Linked DNA regions of Homo sapiens: region 1 is linked to region 2. Evidence: fine-mapped QTL for protein levels in blood plasma. Region 2 holds a variant in brackets. A gene starts in the other region. All regions are shown on their reverse strands. Region 1 holds the start of CR2 (complement C3d receptor 2). Region 2 holds the start of QTGAL (queuosine-tRNA galactosyltransferase).

Evidence for each region. PIP is the posterior inclusion probability: the model's chance that the variant is causal. Protein levels are from antibody-based Olink assays in UK Biobank. Linkage for the fine-mapping came from a reference panel and not from the study's own genotypes, which makes the PIPs less certain.
Region 1: it holds the start of CR2, and the variant in region 2 is fine-mapped to the plasma level of the CR2 protein (UK Biobank, PIP above 0.99).

What each region holds. Positions count from the first base shown.
Region 1 is chr1:207,451,216-207,456,592 of GRCh38, reverse strand. CR2 (complement C3d receptor 2) reads right to left here and starts at 2,265. Exons shown (of 20, transcript NM_001006658.3): 1 at 2,117-2,265. The coding sequence starts at 2,174. RefSeq lists silencers at 1,707-1,816, 2,197-2,426.
Region 2 is chr17:83,051,482-83,056,806 of GRCh38, reverse strand. QTGAL (queuosine-tRNA galactosyltransferase) reads left to right here and starts at 5,037. Exons shown (of 13, transcript NM_001009905.3): 1 at 5,037-5,070. The coding sequence starts at 5,056. All of the region lies in intron 1 of LOC124904094, which reads right to left. The variant A/G (reference allele first, on the strand shown) is at 3,031.

The DNA of each region.
Region 1 (5,377 bases), not on the chromosome of region 2:
GTGTAGGAAATTTGAAACTGTTTATGCAAATAGACAAAAGGAAAAATAGGAAAACACTAAAAAGGAAATTTGCTTCCATTGACTTTGCTTATAGCAGTGTGCCCTATAGATACTTGTTGCAGAATCTTCTAGAGTGATTGTTAAACCTCAGCTTTCCTGTGCTAACTCCAAACCTATGAACCTCTGGAGGGGGAGGTGGAACCAGGAACCTACATTTTATAAAGGTACTTTAGTATTTTATTAAGCACACTCAAGTGCAGGAACTGGCCAAGAGATGATGTGTGGAGAGCATGCAGTAGCAGTAAAAGTTAGCAGTGGAGAGTGGGCAAAGCATGAGCCATGGGAGACAGGTGGGGAAGACCATGAGCAGCGCATACAAGACAGGCAGCTGGAGAAATCAGGGGGTGTGAGCTTCGGTGAGATCCCATTCCAAAGGGCTAGAAAGGCTGAAGACACCAGATTTTCTTCCACTGGAGGCCTTTTAGATTTTTGAACAATGGAGTGAAATAATGAAAATATATATATTTCTTAATTTTTTGTTTTCATAATTGGAAAGTGACCTATAGGTCACTCTTTAACCTTTCCAATCATAAGAACCAAAATCTCTTAAAAGAGATGAGGTTGTTACACAGGTAATTATAATGCTTAGGATGGGAATACTGGTACAAAAATGAGAAATGGACAAACAACAGAAGCACAGTAGCTTGAATGGCTGATAGGTAGACCTGGTATTTCATGGGGCTCCAGTTAAGTGACCTACATGATGCTGCTGCTGTGGCCCTGAATTGGCAGGACTGGTGAAGAATTTGATTTTCAGTTGATAATATCCTCTTTGAAATTTAGAAATAGGTGAGAAGTCAGGGACGTACTCTGCTCTTAGAAAAAGTGTGAATATACATTTGTTCAAAGGGAGTTAATATGCAGAAAAAGAAAAGAGATGAAGATAATGGTCTGGAGAAAGGTTTAAGGGTCAGGAGACAGTAAAATGTCAGGAAAGCAAAAAGTTGTAATAAACTAATATGTGCTGTATTCCAGACACCTCAATAAGCTGGATGTCCATAGAAACAATTGGACACCCAGCTTGTTAGCTTAAATGCTGGCTCCATAAAATCAAGTCTGTACAGGAGGCTTATTACTGATATTTAGTAGTAACGACTAACATCCAACTTTCTTTGCTTAGTTTCATCTGTGCTCAGGGCAGCTCAGTGAGGTGGAAGGCCAGTTAATCACTAGTTTCATTTTACAGATGAAGAAACTGAAGATCAGGGAGCTAAATGACTTGCCAAAAGTCACCCAGTTATTGAGGTCTGCACACAGTAAACGTCTTATAAACTAGGAATGCACGGTACCGTGGAGATAATTAGAAACTTAGACCCATCCTGTAGCCAAGAGACGCTAATCTTAATTATAATCTTTCTTTAAAATCAAGCCAATCTGGAGGAAAAAAAGATATAATAAACGGTGAATGAGACCTTTGCGGACGTCCACACCATTACAGTAGGTTAATAACAAGAAGAAAACAATAGTTTTAATCCATGTCTCAAAAATAACTACGGATGGTTAATGTTTAGGATCTCTACCAATATCACATTAGAGTTCAGAAAATCTGAGACCCATGCTTGGGAACCAGGTCTTACTCTTATTTAGGGAAGGGAGCCGAGGTTCTGCCGCTTTTGCTGGGCAAGAGCGCGGTTCGGGTGTACAGAAACAGCCTCACGTGGCTAGCTGGTGCCTCATGCAGTGGGTAGGTTTCCCGTGGCGAGCGGTAGCGCTGACCGCCGGCCAGAGAGCGATGAGCACCTGCAGAATCCTGGGGGCGGGGAGCCCGGCAGGAGACCGCGAGCACCCGCACGCCGCCAGCCACACCGGGCCGACCAGACAGCGCCCCTCTGTGGCGCAGCCTCCAATTCTGGAGGTCCCAGCTCCCGGAGGGGCCAGTGGGGACAATCAGGACCAGGCGGTTTATTGCAGTGGTCCCTCAAAGCTAGCGGGAGGCGGACACGCGTCGAGCACTGCCCCCACCGTCTCGCTTTTGGCCCCCTGCTTTGCATCGCGGCACAGAAACTTTCCCTGCCCGGGACGCGTCCCCACCTCCGTGCTCCCCCTCCCAGCTCACCGAGGACCCCCGGTGCGACGAGAGCCAAGAAAACCCCGAGCAGGCCCGCGGCGCCCATGCCACGGCCGAAGCCCCCGCGGCGGGATGCGTTCCGAGACCCGCGAGCGTCCGGCAGCTCTGGGAGGGCAAGGCTGGAGCAGCAAGCAGCTGTGAGCCAGGAGAGGCGGGCCCTTAAATAGTGTCCGGCACACGTGCTAGTTCTGAGCGCACACCTGCAGGCGGCCTGGGGGCTGACGCGGCGCCGGTGAGGGTGGGACAAGCGGGAGGGACGGCCCGGCACGAGGTGGGCGGGGAGCTCTGAGCCACTCTTTGGCTCAGACTCACCCCTCGTTGCGGTGGCTTCCCCACTTTTTTGACCACGCAACCCACTACACTCACTTGTTTCTCTTACTAGAACTTAAACAAAACTTTCACAAGTTAGTACTCACCCTTAGTAATCTACAATGTTCGTCCTCTGTGCCATGCTGTGTTATGCTAGACTAGGCTAGGCTATCCTATTCTTATTAGAAATCCACCAAACTCATTTCAAAACCTATTAGTGGATTCATCTCCCAGTTTGAAAAAGCAGTGTAAGTTTACTTAGGGAATTTAGGAACAGCAGCCACTTCTGCTCTGTTCTTTATTTTGAAGTAATCTCTACAGAAAAGTTTCAAGAGTACTGCAGAGAATTCCCATATACTTGTCACCCAGATTCTCTGCATGTTAACATTTTGCTGTATTTTCTTTACCATTCTCTATTCTTTCTCTATAGACATATATGTACATATATGTGATTATATAATTATAATTATATAATTATTACTTTGGAACCATCTAGCATTTATTCCTATTCTAAATGGTTCACTAAGGACTTTCTGTTCCATAACTAGAGTGCAATGATCAAAAATAAGAACTTAACATTGACACAAGACTATAAGCTACCATCTGTATTTAAATTTTGACAATCATCTCAATAACCTGTGTTATGGTAAAAACAATAACAACAATAGAAACCAACCTTTGTTTTTCCTGGTCCAGAATCATTTCAGGATCATGTATTGTGTTTGATCATTATGCCTTCCCCCCACCCCCAGTTCTTTATTCTGGAAAAATGTCCTCAGCATTTTTGGTATTGCATGACCTTTACATTTTTGACGAATACACCACAATTATTTTTGGAGAATGACTTTTAAGTCCGTTATCTATTATAATAACAAATTACCCTGAAGGTAGTGGTGTAAAGCAAGAATAAACATTTATGATCTCACAGTTTCTGTGGGTCGGTCAGGTGGTTCTGGCTTGGGATCGCTCAGGAGATTGCAGTTAAGACACCAGCTGGAGGTGCAGTCATCTGAAGGGTTAACTGGGATAGGCGAATCCACATCTAAGATGGCTCACTTACCAGCCTTTGGCTGGAAGCTTCATTCTTCACCACGTGGATTTTGCCATAGGGCTCGCTGCTTGTGTGTTGAGTGTCCTCGTGACATGCCAGCTAGCGTCTCTGAGAACAAGAAAGAAGAAGCCATAATGTCCTTTGTGACCTGTCCTCAGAAATCACAATATGTTAACTCCAGAATATCCAATTGATTGTACAGATCAGCCCTTTTCAGTGTAGGAGGGCAGTATACGTGGATGGTAATGTCAGGAGACAGGATCACACCCCACAATTTGGATTTGTCTATCATTTCTTCATGATAGATTCAGGTTATTGAATCTAATTATTTGACAGGAATACCAGAAAGGATGTCTTATCCTTACGGGGAGGCATATGTTGTCTATTTGTCCTATTACTGGTGGTGGTAACTTTGATCACTTAGTTAAGATGGTGCCTGCCATGTTTCTTAGTGTAGACTCAGTATTTTTCCCTTTGTAATTAATAAGTATTTTATAGGGAGATACTTTAAAACTATGTAAATTCCTCATTTTTTCATCAAATTTTTACCCACAAATTTTAGCGTCTATTGATGATCCTTTCTTGAATCAATTTTTACTATGATGGTTGTCAAAGGGTGTTTTTTCCTAATTTAATAATTACTTCTATATTCATCTGTTGGCATTTTACTGTAAATAAAAGTTTTCCCTTCTCTATTTATTTATTCATTTATCTATATCAGCATAAACTATATCAATATGAATTTTATTTATTTACTCAATGGGTCATAATTCATGGCTACCATTATTTATTTTGATGCTTAAATTCTCCCTGATCGGGCCAGTGGGAGCCCTCAAAATAGTTCCTATGTCATTTTGACTTGTTCTTATTGTTCTTTGAGCACTTCCTTACTTTCTGGCACACACACAAAAAAAAATGCTCCAGACTCACCTCTAGACCTGACACTGGAATTTGCTGTTTCTCCAAGGAATGCTGGTTCTTTCTGGCAGAGAATGGCATTTAGATGCCAGAATTGGATGCTAAGTGTGTTCATTTTTATTGGAGTATCATTGTTTCCGCACCCTCTCAGCAGACAGAGCAAGGATATGTATTATATATATATATGTATATCCATTCCCATATCTATATTTATATATGTCATGAATTCACAGTGATTCTTCCAATTTCAGTCCGTTAGCATAGAGTTCATTCTGTCCTTCCCTCTTTCTGCATGTGTAACTCCCTTCTTCAACAGTGAGACACCTAGATCCACAATATATTTACTTATTTGCTTAATCCTAGAATACACAGAAAGAAGTTTAAAATTGCTATTTCTATACTATGATGGAAATCAAATCTACTCGTTTTTAAAGTTTTATTTTGTTTATAGCCCGAAAATATAAAAACAGCATTGTTGTGTTCCAAAGTTACTCAGATTATTCCCCCTCTTCAGTGTGATTGTTATTCATTCAAAATACTGTTAATTTGTTTCTCTTTGTATTCTATTTTAGTTTCCCCTCAATCTTTTTGATTTTTTTTTGCTTAAATAAAACATTAACGTAGTCCCAAATGTCAGATTGATATAAAAAGACACAATAAAAGGGAAATGTCACTTCTCTCCATCACCTCTATCCTCTCCACCATAGGTACTCAATTTCAGTAGTTTCTGGTTTGTCCTTAGTTTTGCTCAAATGAGCTGCTACACATTTGTCTTCTTAGTTCTCCTTTTTTATTACATTTTAAAAGCATGCTATAGGTATTCTTTTGCACATTTCTTTTTTAACTTAACAAATATGCTGGAATCCACTATTTCCTACAAATTCAAATATTCCTCATTCATTTTTACAGTTGCATGCAATACTTCACTGTGTGGATATGCCATAGTTTATTCAACCATCTCCCTATGTATG
Region 2 (5,325 bases):
GTTTGGAGACGCTCCGTCAGTCGGATCTCCTTCTCTTTCCAGAAGGCCTGACGGTGCAGGTGGGTGGAGCCAACACTGACTGCGTGCTGACTTGGGCAAGGCGCTGGGTAGGGCTTGGTCCCTCCAAGGGGCCACATGAGGCCGTCCCTTCCCTCTGACGTGTAATAGAATTTCACGGATCTGCAGAACGCCGTCACCTCAACTTCTCTGTCCAGGCTCTGCAATTCACAGGCTTGACTTTCCTTTCGTAGGATCAGCCCGTACCCCCCGGAGCTCCAGGCCGGTACCCCCACCCCTGGCTCAGAATTATCCTCCTGAATTGACTCTGGGTTTCCCTGTGCAACTAGAATCCTACAATCCCCAACAGGTCTGAATCCCAGGAATGTGGGCGGCTGAAAAATGGAACTCGAGGGACCACATCCGCACTTAAGTCTACTGTCCTGAAGACTTTTTCATTTATTTTTTTGTAGATTACTTTTTTAAAAAGCATGGGCTGCAACTCCTTAATAAGTCATTAAATCCACATGGTGAGTCACAGCCTTTAAATAGCTGAGACAGAGTAGGAGAGATGACCTCAGTGCACACATCGCCGAACAGCCAGGCTGCCCTCACGGGCTGCTTTATTATGGGGGTGCTATGGTCACCACGTGCAGAGTCTCCTACAGTCTCGAGCGACCCTGCCCTCCAGGCAGCACCCACTGCCTAGGGGAGGTCGAACCAGGTCTGTTGAGGTTCATCCCCTCTGGAGACTTGGACACACGAAGGTCTAGGGGATCAGGCTGTTGAAGGAACCTGTTGGGCTCTTGTCTTTAAAGCTTGAACTCAGCCCTCACTAGCTGCACTCACATCAGAATCATTCTTACTGGGGACCCAGTGTCCCCCAAGTCTAACACCGTCCGTGCGGACCTGCAGGGAACCTCTGTCTCCCCACCCAGCACCGAGTCTAACACCATCTGTGCGGACCTGCAGGGAACCTCTGTCTCCCCACCCAGCACTGAGTCTAACACCGTCCGTGCGGACCTGCAGGGAACCTCTGTCTCCCCACCCAGCACCGAGTCTAACACCGTCCGTGCGGACCTGCAGGGAACCTCCCCACCCAGCACCGAGTCTAACACTGTCTGTGGGGACCTGCAGGGAACCTCTGTCTCCCCACCCAGCACCGAGTCTAACACCGTCCGTGCGGACCTGCAGGGAACCTCCCCACCCAGCACCGAGTCTAACACTGTCTGTGGGGACCTGCAGGGAACCTGTCTCCCCACCCAGCACCGAGTCTAACACCGTCCGTGCGGACCTGCAGGGAACCTCCCCACCCAGCACCGAGTTTAACACCGTCCGTGCGGACCTGCAGGGAACCTCCCCACCCAGCACCCAGTCTAACACCGTCCGTGCGGACCTGCAGGGAACCTCTGTCAACCCACCCAGCACCGAGTCTAACACCGTCCGTGCGGACCTGCAGGGAACCTCCCCACCCAGCACCGAGTCTAACACCGTCCGTGCGGACCTGCTGGGAACCTCCCCACCCAGCACCGAGTCTAACACTGTCCGTGGGGACCTGCAGGGAACCTCTGTCTCCCCACCCAGCACCGAGTCTAACACCGTCCGTGCGGACCTGCAGGGAACCTCTGTCTCCCCACCCAGCACCGAGTCTAACACCGTCCGTGCGGACCTGCAGGGAACCTCTGTCTCCCCACCCAGCACCGAGTCTAACACCGTCCGTGCGGACCTGCAGGGAACCTCTGTCTCCCCACCCAGCACTGAGTCTAACACTGTCTGTGGGGACCTGCAGGGAACCTCTGTCTCCCCACCCAGCACTGAAGGCTGCTGAGAAGTTCTTCGATTTGGAGACCTGATGTCTTGGTCCATTTGTGCTGCTGTAACAAAATACCTCTGACCATGTGATTGATAAACAGTAGAAATGTATTGCACACAGTTGTAGAGGCTGAGAAGTCCAGGATCCAGGCGCCAGCAGACTTGGTGTTTGGTGACAGCCTGTTCCCCAGAGATGGTACCTTCTATGTGTCCTCACGTGGAGGAAGGGACAGAAGGGCTCCTTCAAGTCTCGTTGAAGGGCACTCGTCCGTCATGAGAGGACAGCCCTCACGGCCCAGTCACCTCCTTAAAGCTCCATCTCCTAACCACATCGCCTTGGGGGTTAGGTGTCAACATATGGTTTGGGGGGACACACACATTGAGACCACAGCACCTACTCCAGGCCCCTGGCAACTGGTACTGAGTCCTCTGAATATAGCCAGTATTCGCCAAAACCTTTTGCACAAACAACAATTAAAAATAAAGAAAACTGGCTATCTGCAATGGCTCTCACTTGTAATCCCAGCAGTTTGGGAGGCCAAGAGCTCGAGACCAGTCTGGGCAACAGCAAGACCCCATCTCTACAAAAATAAAATAAAATAAATAAATACAACTGCCCACTCAGTGAACCCAAAGCTGTGGGGCGTTTTGTGTCACTTCCTCTGCTGGTGCCCACGTGACGTCAATCATCTTTCATCAGCACCTCACTTCCCTCTGAACGAAGACCACACGATCTCCACCCGGCCAGCTCTGAGGCCCCAGGTCCTCCTTCCTGTCTCTCTCCAGGGTACAGTGTCAGTGCCTTCTGTCCGGGCCCTCTGCTGACCTCTCCCCGAGGATCTTCCTACTGCGAGGGCAGTGATCTCAGGCCCCACCACCCTTGGATTTCAGGACCCCACCTCTGCAACCCTGCATTTCTGAAACGCACCTTGGCACTTTGAATGTTCCCAAAAAGGAGATTCTAATCAAATTTGAATTAGGGGGAAGTCAGTGAAAAGCAAATTTCTGGCACCAGGAAATGTACAGGAAGGAAGGTGAGAGGCAAGCCCAGTTCTGGACACCATGTGCTGTGGAGGGGCAGAAGCCATCTGTGACCCCTGACCTCTGGCCCTTACCACCTACCTTATCATGAGCCTACGGCGCATTCTGGCAGCTACAGGGCTACTTTTTACTGAGTCCTTTACAATGAAATGATTCCTAGTACCCCAACCTCTGGAGAAC[A/G]TGAAGTCCCTGGAAGCAAATTCTCAGATAGCTTTTGCTGAACGGTAAATAAGGCTGCATTTTCACTCATGTGACTTAAGCAGTCCACTTGTAAAACAGGCTTTGCAAACAAGGAGGCAATTTAAGGGAAAAAAAACCATCTATGAAGTGATGCTTAACAGAAGTTTGGCTTTGTTGTAACGGTTAATTGACAGAATGATTTGCATTTAATCTTAGTTTTGGACAGCCAAGGATTTGTCCAGGAAGGGCTGCTTACAGCCATGCTCATTAATTGTGAATTACTCATTACTTCAGATCAGCTGGAACAAATCCCAAGCGGGCTTAATCTCTGTGTGCAGGCAGCCCAGGGCTAATGGCAGCAGTCCTTTTTATTGACCCCCACGGCCCTGTCCCCAGTCAACCTCCTCCAAGCAGGGAGTTTCCAGAGGCCTCACAGCCGCCTGGGAGACCCCTCATGGCAGGCTGCTCCCTTGACAAGTTCAGAACTGCTGGGGTTCCCGGCCGCGCGTTCAGGACTCAAATCTGGAGATATCCGCTCTGTGCTCCTCAAGTATAAGGTTAGATAGGGATGGGGCCTGGCCTGTGTTCCTGGCAGGGAAGGCCACCTCTGAGCTCCCCCAGAGCCCGGCCGCCTTCTCCGGGTTCCCAGCCCTGCAGTTCCCAAGGCTGCATGCGGAGGCGGAAATGAGGGCAAAGGTGGAGGGTACCCGGAGCTACTGAGGTCATGTCTTTCCCCAGGCACCCCTTCTCCTGGGGGACCTCACGGTGGGGTCAGGGCCTCACTCCCGGGCACCCCTCCTCCTGGAGGACCTCACGGTGGGGTCAGGGCCTCACTCCCGGGCACCCCTCCTCCTGGGGGACCTCGCGGTGGGGTCAGGGCCTCACTCCCGGGCACCCCTCCTCCTGGGGGACCTCCTGGTGGGGTCAGGGTCTCACTCCTGGGCACCCCTCCTCCTGGGGGACCTCGCGGTGGGGTCAGGGCCTCACTCCCGGGCACCCCTCCTCCTGGGGGACCTCCTGGTGGGGTCAGGGCCTCACTCCTGGGCACCCCTCCTCCTGGGGGACCTCGCGGTGGGGTCAGGGCCTCACTCCCGGGCACCCCTCCTCCTGGGGGACCTCCTGGTGGGGTCAGGGTCTCACTCCTGGGCACCCCTCCTTCTGGGGGACCTCACGGTGGGGTGAGGGCCTCACTCCTGGGCACCCCTCCTCCTGGAGGACCTCCTGGTGGGGTCAGGGCCTCACTCCTGGGCACCCCTCCTCCTGGGGGACCTCGCGGTGGGGTCAGGGCCTCACTCCCGGGTACCCCTCCTCCTAGGGGAGCTAACCCCGGGCACCCCTCCTCCTGGGGGGACATCTCAGTGGGGTCAAGGCCTCAGGCCTGGGCACTTCTCCTGGGGGACCTCGCCCCGGGCACCCTTCCTCCTGGATGACACCCCGGTGGGGTCAGGGCCTCACCCCTCTCCTGGGGCCGTCAAGTGTCCTGCACGCCCTGCTCTCCCTACCGCGTCTGTCTGAAAGGACGCCCTGCAGTCCCCTCGTCCTCCCCGGTCAAGTAGCACAGCCCACAGCCCGGGTGAAATGCAACGACCTTTTACATATCAGCCTTGCTTGAGGCTTTACAGCAACTCCAGGCCGCCTGGCTTGGGTTTGCAGCGCGGCGCCCTCGCACAGCCCCGCCTTCCCCGCGGCGGCGTCTACGGGGGACCAGAGATTGTGACGCGCGCCCTAGGGGAGAGCAGGAGGCTTCCACGGGCCAAGGAGGCGGCTCCGAGAGGTGACCCGGGACCGGGGCGTGGCCCAGGGCGGAAGACTGAGGCGGCGACCTCCCGGCCCCGCCCCGCGCCGAGCAGCCCCGCCCCTTCCACGCCCCTCCGGGAGGCCCACCCCTATGGACGCCGCTCTGCACCAATCGGAGATTGCCTGGCCTCAGACCCGCCTCCTGGTGCCGCCCGCGCAGGCGCCGTAGGCCGAAGCGGCGGGATGAGCGGAGCCGGCGTGGGCGGGGCGTCCGAGGAGAGCCAGGCCATGCAGGCCCACGTGGTAGGTGCCAGCGGGGAGGGTGCCCCGCCGTGCAGGCTGGGTCCTCGCGTCCCCTCACCCCGCCCTCCAGTCCTCTCTCGCTCCGGGGTTCGCAGCCCCGCACCGCCTCTCGGGCTCACCTACGGGGTCTCCGCCCTGAGCAGCCCTTAGGCCCCGCGGGCGAGCGCGGCTGCGCGTGCGGGGGACGCTCGGGATTGGAGCCCGCGGGGCGCGGCCGAGATCTGCAGCTCCGGCTGCGCTTCCTGCCCCCGTCCC